Linked DNA regions of Homo sapiens: region 2 is linked to region 1. The links come from fine-mapping of genetic effects on gene expression. A gene starts in region 1. The other region holds a variant in brackets. All regions are shown on one strand. Distances are from middle to middle.

Region 1 (5,310 bases):
CCATGTTGACGACACTGGAGGTAGGCATTCGGGAATCCTCAGGGGGATGTGACCAATGGATCCCAGAGAGGACAGGCCTCCCCCTCCTCTTCGTCTCCAGAGGGATGCACAGTCAGGGGAGCTTGCCAGAGACTCCAAACCTGGATGGAACAGAACACCTGGATGAACAGTCCCTGCGATACCTTGAATCTGCTAAGAAGCCTTAGGACATTGTTGGTAGCTATAAGCAGATGATTCCATCTGCTCAGTATCTCTGGGTAGCCTCTCAGTGATCCCCCCTTGAAACTCCTTTTTTTTTTTTAAGACGGAGTGGTGCGATCTTGGCTCACTGCAACCTCTGCCTCCCAGGTTCAAGCGATTCTCCTGCCTCAGCCTCCTGAGTGGCTGAAATTACAGGCTTACAGGCATGCGACACCACGCCCACCCAATTTTTGTATTTTTAGTAGAGATGGGATTTCACCATATTGGCCAGGCTGGTCTCAAACTTCTGACCTCAAGTGATCCGCCTGCCTTGGCCTCCCAAAGTGCTGGGATTACAGGCATAAGCCACCATGCCCGGCCCTCTTTGAAACTCTTAAGGTATTGTATTTCATCCTATTGTCAAACTAAGAGTCCTGATTGGGGAAGCCAGAAAATATGTTTTAAACCCTCCAACGGCTGCCCAGTGCAATCAGAATCAAACCCGAGCTCTGTCCATAGCCTACGGGTTCTTCCTGATGTAGCATCATCTGTTTCCAACTGCATTTCCTCCCATTCTCCCTTTTCCCACTCCTGTCCACCCACAGTGGCCCTTCTGTTCCTCTAATGTGTCAGCGTGTCCCTGCCTCAGGGCCTTTGCACTTGCTGTGCCCTCCCCTTGGAATACTTTCTCCTCTAAATGTGGCAGGGCTTGGTCCCGCAGGGCAAATGTCGTCTCTTCCCAGAGGCCTTCTCTTCTCATTCTCCTGACTCCCCGTAATATTGCCCTGTTTTATATTATTCATAGCACTTATTTGTTCATGTTTGCTTATTTATTTATGATTTGTCCTCCCCATTAGAATATAAATGCCATTCCTGAAAGTAGGGATCCTGTCTACTTGGATCACCCCTCTGCCTCAGCATCCAGGACACTGTTTGGCACAGAGTGGCGCTCAACAAGTATTTACTCAATGAATAAAACATCTATGGGTCTCCCAGTTCCCCTTTTCTAGATCCCTTGCTCCCTGTCCCACCTTTCACCCTAGCAAGGTAATAAGGGCCATCTACTTCCCATGAAAAGGTTTAGCCTCCGTGAATATCTTCTTGTCTCTGGAGGCAGAGCCAATATTGTGGATATAGGGTGTCTATATCAGTCAGATGGTGTCTGACTTCAGTTTAGGGCACGATTATTGGCTGTTGAATGACTTCCTAATCCTGACCAGGCTTCTTGAGGGGGCAGCAATGGTGTCACTAGGGCCACTGATTAAAAATGACCCGCCAGTGAAGCCTCCTTTCTCTTTTGAAAAATTAGGTAACAAACCGGTCAGCAGCAGCATCTTCATATATCAAGAAAAGGTCATTATATAAATATTTTTCAAGAATTTGCAATCTCAACTTAATCCTCCTCTCGCCCCTCCCTCCATTATCCCACATTGCAAATCCTTGGGGGAAAATAAAATTCATATTCCAAAGTTCTCATCCACACATTTAACTCCTAAATCGAATGCTCGAAACTCTACTTTCGGATGCTTGTATTGGAAGAGGCTTCGGATTCTTTGTCGGAAGCAGGCCGTACATAATTCTGGAATAAATTTTTGCACGCGGGATGCATCTGAATGAATGAAACGCTTTTTAATCCTCTGCTCTGTACATCCCACTATGTCCCTTTGAAGGACCGCACCGAGACTTTTCGATGCTTGCGATGGTTCAAGTTGCGCCCCTGGGGCCCGTTACAGGACTGCACCGAAATGCACTCAGAGGAGCATCGCCTGCATCACTTGGACTGGAAGCCGGCAGGTGCACTTCGGGAACAACGTCGCGAGCGCTTTTCATCCCTGCAACCAACACACAGCGCAAAACGCTCTGGGACTGCAAGGGCAGGAGACTACACAGACCATGATGGGAGAAAAGAAAAAAAAATCGCGTTCTCTTTTTACCTGCCCAGACAATTCAGCAATCACAGCCGCATCATTCAGGTCCAGCCAAGCCAATCACCCGCGCAGCCTGGGCAGCATGTGACTTCCGATGCTTCCGGCCTCCTATTGGGTGGTTTCTTGGCGTCGCCGGGTCCGGCGCTAGGACCCGGGCACAGCTACGCCCGCAGCACTCACGCGATTGTCCGCCCCCTTTCCCGGCACTTAACCAATAGGAGGCCGCCGTTCCTTAGGGACCAATGGTGAGAAGATCTTGCGCGACTAGCCCTTGTCGCTGCGGAGCGGAGGCGGGGCGTAGGGCGGGGTCACGTGGGGCTGCGCCCAAGGCTGCCGGGAGCAGACTGGGCTGCGGGCGGCGGGGCCGGCGCCTGCCTGGAGGGATGGGGCTGCCGGGCGCGTAGGGGCCATGCCGCCCGGGACCCGGGCCTGCCGCGTTCCGCGCCCCGGCCGCCGCGCCCCACGTCCGCGCCGGGATGGTGAACCTGGCGGCCATGGTGTGGCGCCGGCTTCTGCGGAAGAGGTGGGTGCTCGCCCTGGTCTTCGGGCTGTCGCTCGTCTACTTCCTCAGCAGCACCTTCAAGCAGGTCAGTGGCCGCCCTTCCCCTCCTCCCCTTCCCTTCTTCCTTCCTTCCTCCCCCTTACTTTACTTTCTCCTTCCTTCCTTCGTTACCTTCCTCCTTTTTTCCTTCCTCCCTGTCTTCCTACCCCTTCCCTTCCTTTCTTTCTCCCCTTCCCTTCCTTCCTCCTTCCTTCCCTTCTTCCTACCTCCCCTCCTTCCTTATCTTCCTCCTTCCTTCCCCTCTCCCTGCCTCCCTTCCTTCCTTACCTTCCTCACCTTCCTCCTCCTTCCTTCCTCCCCCTTTCCTTCCTCCCCCTTCCCTTTCTTCTTTCCTCCCCTTTTTCCTCTCCCTTCCCTTCCGTCTTTCTTCCTTCCCTTCCTCCTTCCGTCCTCCTCCTTTCTGTCCCCCTCTCCCTTCCTTCTTCCTTTACTCCCTTTCTTCCCTGACATCCTCTTTCCTCACTTCGTTCTTCCTCCTTCCTTCCCTTCCTCCTCTTTTTCCTTACTCCTCGCGTTTGTCCGACCTCCCGACTTCTGCAGCGGCGCCGCCGGGGCGTCCGAGGGTGGGGAGAGGTGCGCATTCCTGTCCCGGTCTCAGCACGGGTGAGGGACCTGCCCACCGCCTTGGTCCCTGCAGCGGGAAGGGGTTGCTAGGCCAGGGCAGAGCTGGGACTAGAACCCCGAGTTGAGGACCCTTCAGCGGTGGGGACTGCTTTTATGAACACCTCCCTGCTTTTCACCTGCCCGGTCCAGAGCTAAGAGAGGGCGTGCATTTGCTGGCTTCATCTTCGCAGCAGGCCTGGGAGAAGTGGGGTTCCCAGTATTACAGTGGGGGAAACCAAGACATAGGTGGCGAGGGTCGGCCAGCCCTCGCATGGGTGCCCTTCGTTTAATTTGGGGGCTCTGTGTCCTCCTGGGTGACTCAAAAGGACCCACAGTTCCTTTTATGCTTTTTGTGCATAACTTGATTGGTAGAATTCCACCCCTCCAACACACTGCACCCTTTCATTTTTCTTCCATGTGAGAATTTCTGGGAGAAACAGCAAGGAGCACGGGTGGGGAAATCTTACCCAAAGCATTAATAAGTTTGTCTAGAAGTCCAGGTTGAGTGCTTAGTTGTGTAGAAAGGGTGGTTACACCCCAGGGTGCACCCAGGATAATGGGTTATGCTGTTGTCCTGACATGGTTATAAAAAGCTCTCCTTTTTACTCTCAAAGCTCAAGTGTGTAAATAAAATATATAAGTGAATAGAACATTGATAAAACTATGTGGTCACTCTACATTTAGTGGATTGGCAGGGGAGCTGTGAAAAGGGAAGAATAGGGAATTGTACGTGACCTGCCACCTTAGGCAAACAGAGAGGCTGAGTGTTGTAAGTCCCTTTTATTGGCCGGGATGTCTGGGCAATCATGTGACTACCAGACTTCTGTGACTTGTGTTTTCTGCCACCTCAGACACCTCCTCACAGTCGCGTGTTGTCCCTTCTCTGTCTTGTGACCCCTGAGTGGTGGGGTGCGCCAGGACTCCGTCCTCTGCCTTCCTCTCTATCTGACTCAGGTAATCTCTGGGCCATTGTTTAAATACTCAGGTGATCTCTGGAGGTATGCTGTTGATGCCAGTAGTTGATAACAACAGCCTAGATCTGTCCAGAAATCCCCAAATTCTTATATCCAATTGCCTAGTTGATATCTTTTTTTTTTTTCAATTTTTTTTTATTGTGGTAAAATACGACATAAAATTTCCCATCTTTTTTTTTTTTTTTTTTTTTTTTTTTTAAAGACTGAGTTTTGCTCTTGCCCAGGCTGGAGTGCAGTGGGACGACCTCAACTCACCACAGCCTCCACCTCCCGGGTTCAAATGATTCTCCTGCCTCAGCCTTCTTGAGTAGCTGGGATTACAGGCATGCGCCACCATGCCCAGCTAATTTTGTATTTTTAGTAGAAACGGGGTTTCTCCATGTTGGTCATGGCTGGTCTTGAACTCCCGACCTCAGGTGATCCACCCACCTCAGCCTCCCAAAGTGCTGGGATTACAGGTGTGAGCCACCACGCCTGGCCAGAATTTCCCATCTTAACCTTTTTTAACATGGAGTCTCACTCTGTTACCCAGGCTGGAGTGTAGTGGCATGATCTCAGCTCACTGCAACCTCTACCTCTCGGGTTCAAGCAGTTCTCCCTGCCTTAGCCTCCTGAGTAGCTGGGATTACAGGCATGCACCACCACACCCGACTAATTTTTGTATTTTTAATAGAGACAGGGTTTCGCCATGTTGGCCAGGCTGGTCTCGAACTCCTGACCTCAAGTGATCCACCTGCCTCGGCCTCCCAAAGTGCTGGGATTACAGGTGTCAGCCACCACGCCCGGCCCCATCTTAACCATTTTTAAAGTGTGCAGTTCAGTGGTATTAAATACATCCTTAACGCTGTGCGACCATCACCACCATCCATCCCCATAACGCTTGTAGAAACTGAAACTTAATATTCATTTAACAATAACTCTCCATTTCTCCCTTTCCCCAGCCCCCGGCAACCACCCTCCTACTTTCTAGTTGACGTTGAATGTGTTCGTGTTTGGACCAACAGAACTCTTGATTCTCTGCCAGCACTTGTTCCTCCCCGAGTCTTCCCAGTCTCGCTCAGTG
Region 2 (5,376 bases), 25 kb after region 1:
GAGGGTTTCTAGAATCAGGGACCTTGTCTAAGTTTTGTTTGCCCAGAGCCCAGCGAAGTGTGTGATACACCTTGGGAGTTTAGGAGATCACAAAAGGGATGAAAACACCTTTAGAAAACATTTCATTGGTGGGGCGTGGTGGCTTATGCCTGTAATCCCAGCACTTTGGAAGGCTGAGGCAGGTGGATCACCTGAAGGCAGGAGTTCAGACCAGCCTGACCAATATGGTGAAACCCCATCTATACTAAAAATACAAAAATTAGCCGGGTGTGGGGGCGTGTGCCTGTTTTTGTGAGACTCTGTCTCAAAAAAAAGAAAAAAATATTGTTAATAAGTGAGTGTTTTCGGCTCAAGGGAATTGAGTCATACGTTGCATCTCCCCCAGTTCTGCATCTTATTTGCTGCGCTTGCTGGAGTTGTAAAGATTGGTCCTAACAGGGAAAGAAGCACACAAGAGACTGTGAAAAGGGCTCTGAGACAAGCAAGGACAAAAGAGGGAGGGAAATACCTTCCACAGGGCCTGGGATCTGGCAATGCTAGAGCCTTTTTTTTTTTTTTTTTTTTTTGCGATGGAGTCTTGCTCTGTTGCTCAGGCTGGAGTGCAATGGCGTGATCTCAGCTCACTGCAACCTCCCCCTCCTGGGTTCAAGCAATTCTCCTGCCTCAGCCTCCTGAGTAGCTGGGATCACAGGCGTACACCACCACACCCAGCTAAGTTTTTGTACTTTTAGTAGAGACGGGGTTTCACCATGTTGGCCAGGCTGGTCACGGACTCCTGACCTCAGATGATCTGCCCGCCTGAGCCTCCGAAAGTGCTGGGATTACAGGCGTGAGCCACTGCGCCCGGCATGGAGCTGCTATTGATGGGTGAGCTCCACAGCTTTTGCAGAAGCAGAGGATATGACTTGAGAGCAGTGCTGTCACCTCTCAGCATGTCCCCAAGCCCAACTGGGGCCTCCTGGAGATGCCTCAGTCGGCACTGGCCCCAAGGGAATCGTGGGGAACAGTTGCACAATTTGCAAGTTTCTGAGTGCAGCTTTTCCCATCCTTGGGATCAGCAGATAAGTTGTAAACACAGGGAGGTACTGCTTATTGGATATACTTTTCATAAGTAGGACAGAATTCTTTTGGGACTCTAGAGTTGGGAACTACCACTTACTAGCGGCGTGGCTGAGGCAGTCTTCCTCCTCTGTGGCTCAGGCCCTTCATCTGTGAAATGGGGTCACAGCATCTGCCTCTCAGGGTCACTGTGAGGTGTCGATGTGAGCAAGGCCTGAGGCTTGGCAAGAAGTCAATGTCTGCAACTCAGCAGGGAGCAATGGCAGGGGCAGTCAGGGGTCGGCTCGGATAGGGGTGGGTGGGCTCCTGAGGTTGGAAGGGTAGGAATTACAGAGCTCTTGTTACTATTGTTGTTACTGTTTTTAAAGATACGATATTTCAGATAATTCAGGAGCACGTAAGGATGAAACTTAGGATAACCTAAAATCACACAACCTAGAGAGAAGCGCATTTTTGTCTTCCCCCATTTTCTAGGCAAAAATGAAAGTACTTTGTCCTCTTGAAAAACAATTCTCTAATGAATATCCTATGTTACATAGAGGCCTGTGTAATGCATTTGTGTGGCCACATGGTGTCAATTTCATGAATATACAATAATATTATTAATTCCCTGCTGAGGACATTAACTGGTTTCCAAGGCTGCTTGTTGTTTTTGCTACTACAAATAATGCATTGATGATAAATACTTTTACATACATGGTTGTATGTTTATCTGAACTATTTTCACCAATATATTCACCTAGTGTGTATGGAAGTGTCCATTTTTGTCATACCCCTGGTAACCCTGTGATATTATTTTTAAACATTTTGCTAATGGATCTCTGTTCTTGTTTGAATGTATTTAATTTCCAGCAGAATGAGCCCCATTCCTTATTTTGATTGGCCATTTATCATGTACATATGGTGAAATGCCTATTCGTGACTTAGCCAATGTTGTTTCTTTTTCTTACTGATTACTACAGTACATTTTTATATGAAAGCAGCCTTTGTCCCCTTCTCTTGTTTTTCAGCCCTGTGTTAGAAACAACTAAGCTCACATATTCACAAACCAACTTTTCCAGTTCATCTAGGGCAGTGGTGCTCAACAGGGGCAATTTTGCCCCCCAGGGAACATTTGGCAATGTCTGGAGACATTTTTGTCACAGGTGGGGAGGAGGGCAGTACTGTGGGCACTCGTGGAGGGAGGCCAGGGATGGTGCCCAACAGCCCCCACGACACAGAATTACCTGGCTGGAAGTGGGAGCCGGGTGGAGGGAGGGAAGCCCTGCTCTGGGGTCATATCTCCCCGTTAGATTGAACAGAGGAGCTCCTGGTAGCTGAGTGCTGACTTCATTATTTTTCCCCGCCCTTGCTTTCTACCCTGCTGAAGTGCTGCTGATTAAATTACCCTGAAATCCCCACAGGACACATTACTTCCTCACAGGTCTCTACTAGCCCAGCGCTGCCTCAAGGAATGGCATTATTCCTTTGCCACTGTGTCCTCACCGCACTCTTGGACTCCGCCGA[A/G]TGCAGACACCCTCCTGTCTGCAGAAGGATCTGGAGGGGTAGAACGCTTCCCCTCTACGACGGATTGACTCCCCAGCACCTCACCAGCAGTTCTTTGAATGGAGTGGCTTTGGAGGTGGGAGTTGAGGAAGAAATGTGAGCCTGTCATTACAGGTTCTGTTTAGAAAACTAGTCATTCTACTAAAAAGGTATCACATAAGTAAGTAGGAGCAATAAAAACAAAGAAGATAGTGGGACTCCGAGAAGCTTTCCCCGCCTCTGGCCTGTTAGTCTATCGTTCGTTGGGCAAGGCTCTTCCAGTGTGTGACCTTTTGCGTGTTATCACAGCATGAGTGCAGTTTTGTGTACAGGCATCCCTATATTCAGCATGTATCTGCAACATGCCTTACCTCGTCTGCTGTCACAGAGCAAAGTGGAGCAAGTGGTCGCCGTTGGTCTGCACCTGAGCTGGGAGCCGAGTGGTGACGTGCATATGGGCCGACTGCGTCTCCACAGAACCTACTCAGTGATCTTCCTGTGTACGACTCAGTCCCTGATGTTGGAGTTGAACTGTAGGACTGTCTGTAAAATGAAAGTGCAGACTTTAATGTAGTAAAGAGAATGACTTGCCAGTTACAACCAATGAGCAAAGCAGTTAATTATTCAAATATTTTACCAAGAGTCCAGGTTTATTTTTTCTCAGGACTACACATTCTGTGAGACCAGAGGGACCAAGACATATCACTACCAGAAATGTGTTTTCATCAGCACTGCCAGAGGTTTTCATAGGGTAGTTTACTCTTGGAATTTTTAAATTCATACTTTTTTTTATGCAACGTGGGGTAGGTAAGCTTCTGATCACTGTGCACCCAGATTATCCCAAAATCGAAAGTGGTGTTGGCAGCCGGGTGTGGTGGCTCACACCTGTAATCCCAGCACTTTGGGAGGCCAAGGTGAGAGGATTGCTTGAGCCCAGAATTCGAGACCAGCCTGAGCAACATAGGGAGACCCTGTCTCTACAAAAAATAAAAAAAAGGAGCCAGGCATGGTAGTGCACACCTGTAGTCCCAGCTACTCAGGAGGCTGAGGCGGGAGGATGGCTTGAGTCCAGGAGGTCAAGGCTGCAGTGAGCCGTCATTGCGCCAGTGTGCTCCAACCTGGGCCACAGAGTGAGACCCTGTCTGAGGAGGGGAAAAAAGTGTTGTCTAAATGAGAAATCACCATTATCAGTAATTTAAGATTCCAGGCTATGTTGGTCACATCTCACTATTCTTTTTTTTTTGAAACGGATTCTCGTTCCATCGCCCAGGCTGGAGTGCAGTGGCACGATCTGGGCTCGCTGCAAGCTCTGCCTCCTGGGTTCACGCCATTCTCCTGCCTCAGCCTCCCGAGTAGCTGGGACTACAGGCGCCCGCCACCGTGCCCAGCTAATTTTTGTATTTTTAGTAGAGACGGGGTTTCACCGTGTTAGTAGCCAGGATGGTCTCGATCTCCTGACCTCGTGATCCGCCCACCTCGGCCTCCCAAAGTGCTGGGATTACAGGAGTGAGCCACCGCGCCTGGCCACATCTCACTATTCTTAAGGAAGAGAGAGAGCGAGAGAGAGTGTTGTCCTGTCCTGTGGGGATTGGGGCATTGTATTAAGTTGTACTGGGGGATGTCAAGATAGAAATGTTGAGTAAGTTACTACCTGAATAAATATTTGACCAGTTGATGCTAATTTGAATAGTAAATGTGATGACATTATATATTCTCAGGGATGTTTCCATACATTGGCTCTGTGTGTGCGTGTGTGTGTGTGTGTGTGTGTAACAAAAGCAGTATGAAGTATGTGAGCAATATCCTAATTTTATTGACAAGAGCACTGACCTTAATGACCTTGAGTAAATTACCCTCTCCGGCTTTGGTTTCCTCATTTGTCAATTAAGGGTGATGGCTAGCGTATCTTGCAGATCCAAATTCCAATTTTTGTAACAAGCCAAAAGTCCCCCTGGCTGTTAAAGCAAGACCAGAGCCCTCGTATCCCAGCGGCTGGGTCCCAGGCTTTTGATTTTCACAGGACAAATGTAGCCCAGCCATCTGGAGCCCGTTTTTCTCCAAACCAGGGCTTCCTCCTTCTCTCTTGCAGATTTCAACTGGGGCTCACCATTTTCTGCCTCTTCCTCCTCCAGTTTTAAAGAGACACCATATCCTTCTCTGCTGGGACCAACTTCCCATGTACTGCTGCCCTGCACCTGTGAAAACAGCTGCTGTGTTTTCTGTCATAAAAATAGCTGCCTTTTGGCAGAGAAGCACACAACGGTACTACGTTTCTGAGCCTTAATGCAGTGCTCAATTATTTAGGTGTGCTTCACCTGAGATACACAGAGCATCTTGGAACTCCTACTAAGCAGGGCTTCTACAGGCATTGCTCAGCTCAGTAAAAGGTTTTCCTTTCTCTGCTTTTGTGATTACCAGGCAGAAACCTTAAAATGTATGAACTTACAAAGAAATTAAATTGTGCCAAATTAGATTCCCAGCCCCTAGAGATAACCACTAATTAAAGTTCCGCTGGAGCGTTTTGCCTGTATTTTGTATATAAACGTGGATTTTGTATTTGTATGTAAATAAAGGTAGGACCCTGCTGTCCATATTATTTTAAAATAATTAGCTCCTGTTAGATTGATTTAATCCAATGATAGCGAATTCATTTGCAGAGCAGGCAAGCGCACTTTCCACTTCTATCATCCTGCCTGGAAGATTGAAGCCCAGTTAGAGGTTAAAACCCTTTCATAATTGCACAGGAGTTTAGCTTTGCCTGCTTTTTCCTTGTCTGATTTTATGCAGTGGGGA

What was found. PIP is the estimated chance that this variant, and not a neighbour inherited with it, causes the effect.
Region 2: its variant is fine-mapped to the expression of SPRING1 in esophagus mucosa (GTEx, PIP 0.92).

The regions. Positions count from the first base shown.
Region 1 is chr12:116,735,175-116,740,484 of GRCh38, reverse strand. It overlaps SPRING1 (SREBF pathway regulator in golgi 1), which reads left to right and starts at 2,416. Exons shown (of 5, transcript NM_024738.4): 1 at 2,416-2,695. The coding sequence starts at 2,585. RNFT2 (ring finger protein, transmembrane 2) reads right to left here and starts at 2,170. Exons shown (of 11, transcript NM_001382266.1): 1 at 2,115-2,170; 2 at 1-140. RefSeq lists enhancers at 1,888-2,147, 2,916-3,874 and silencers at 2,338-2,597, 2,678-2,727.
Region 2 is chr12:116,709,985-116,715,360 of GRCh38, reverse strand. SPRING1 (SREBF pathway regulator in golgi 1) reads left to right here. Exons shown (of 5, transcript NM_024738.4): 5 at 1-5,190. Among named protein-coding and RNA genes, the nearest start is that of SPRING1, 25 kb to the left of the region's middle. The variant A/G (reference allele first, on the strand shown) is at 2,566.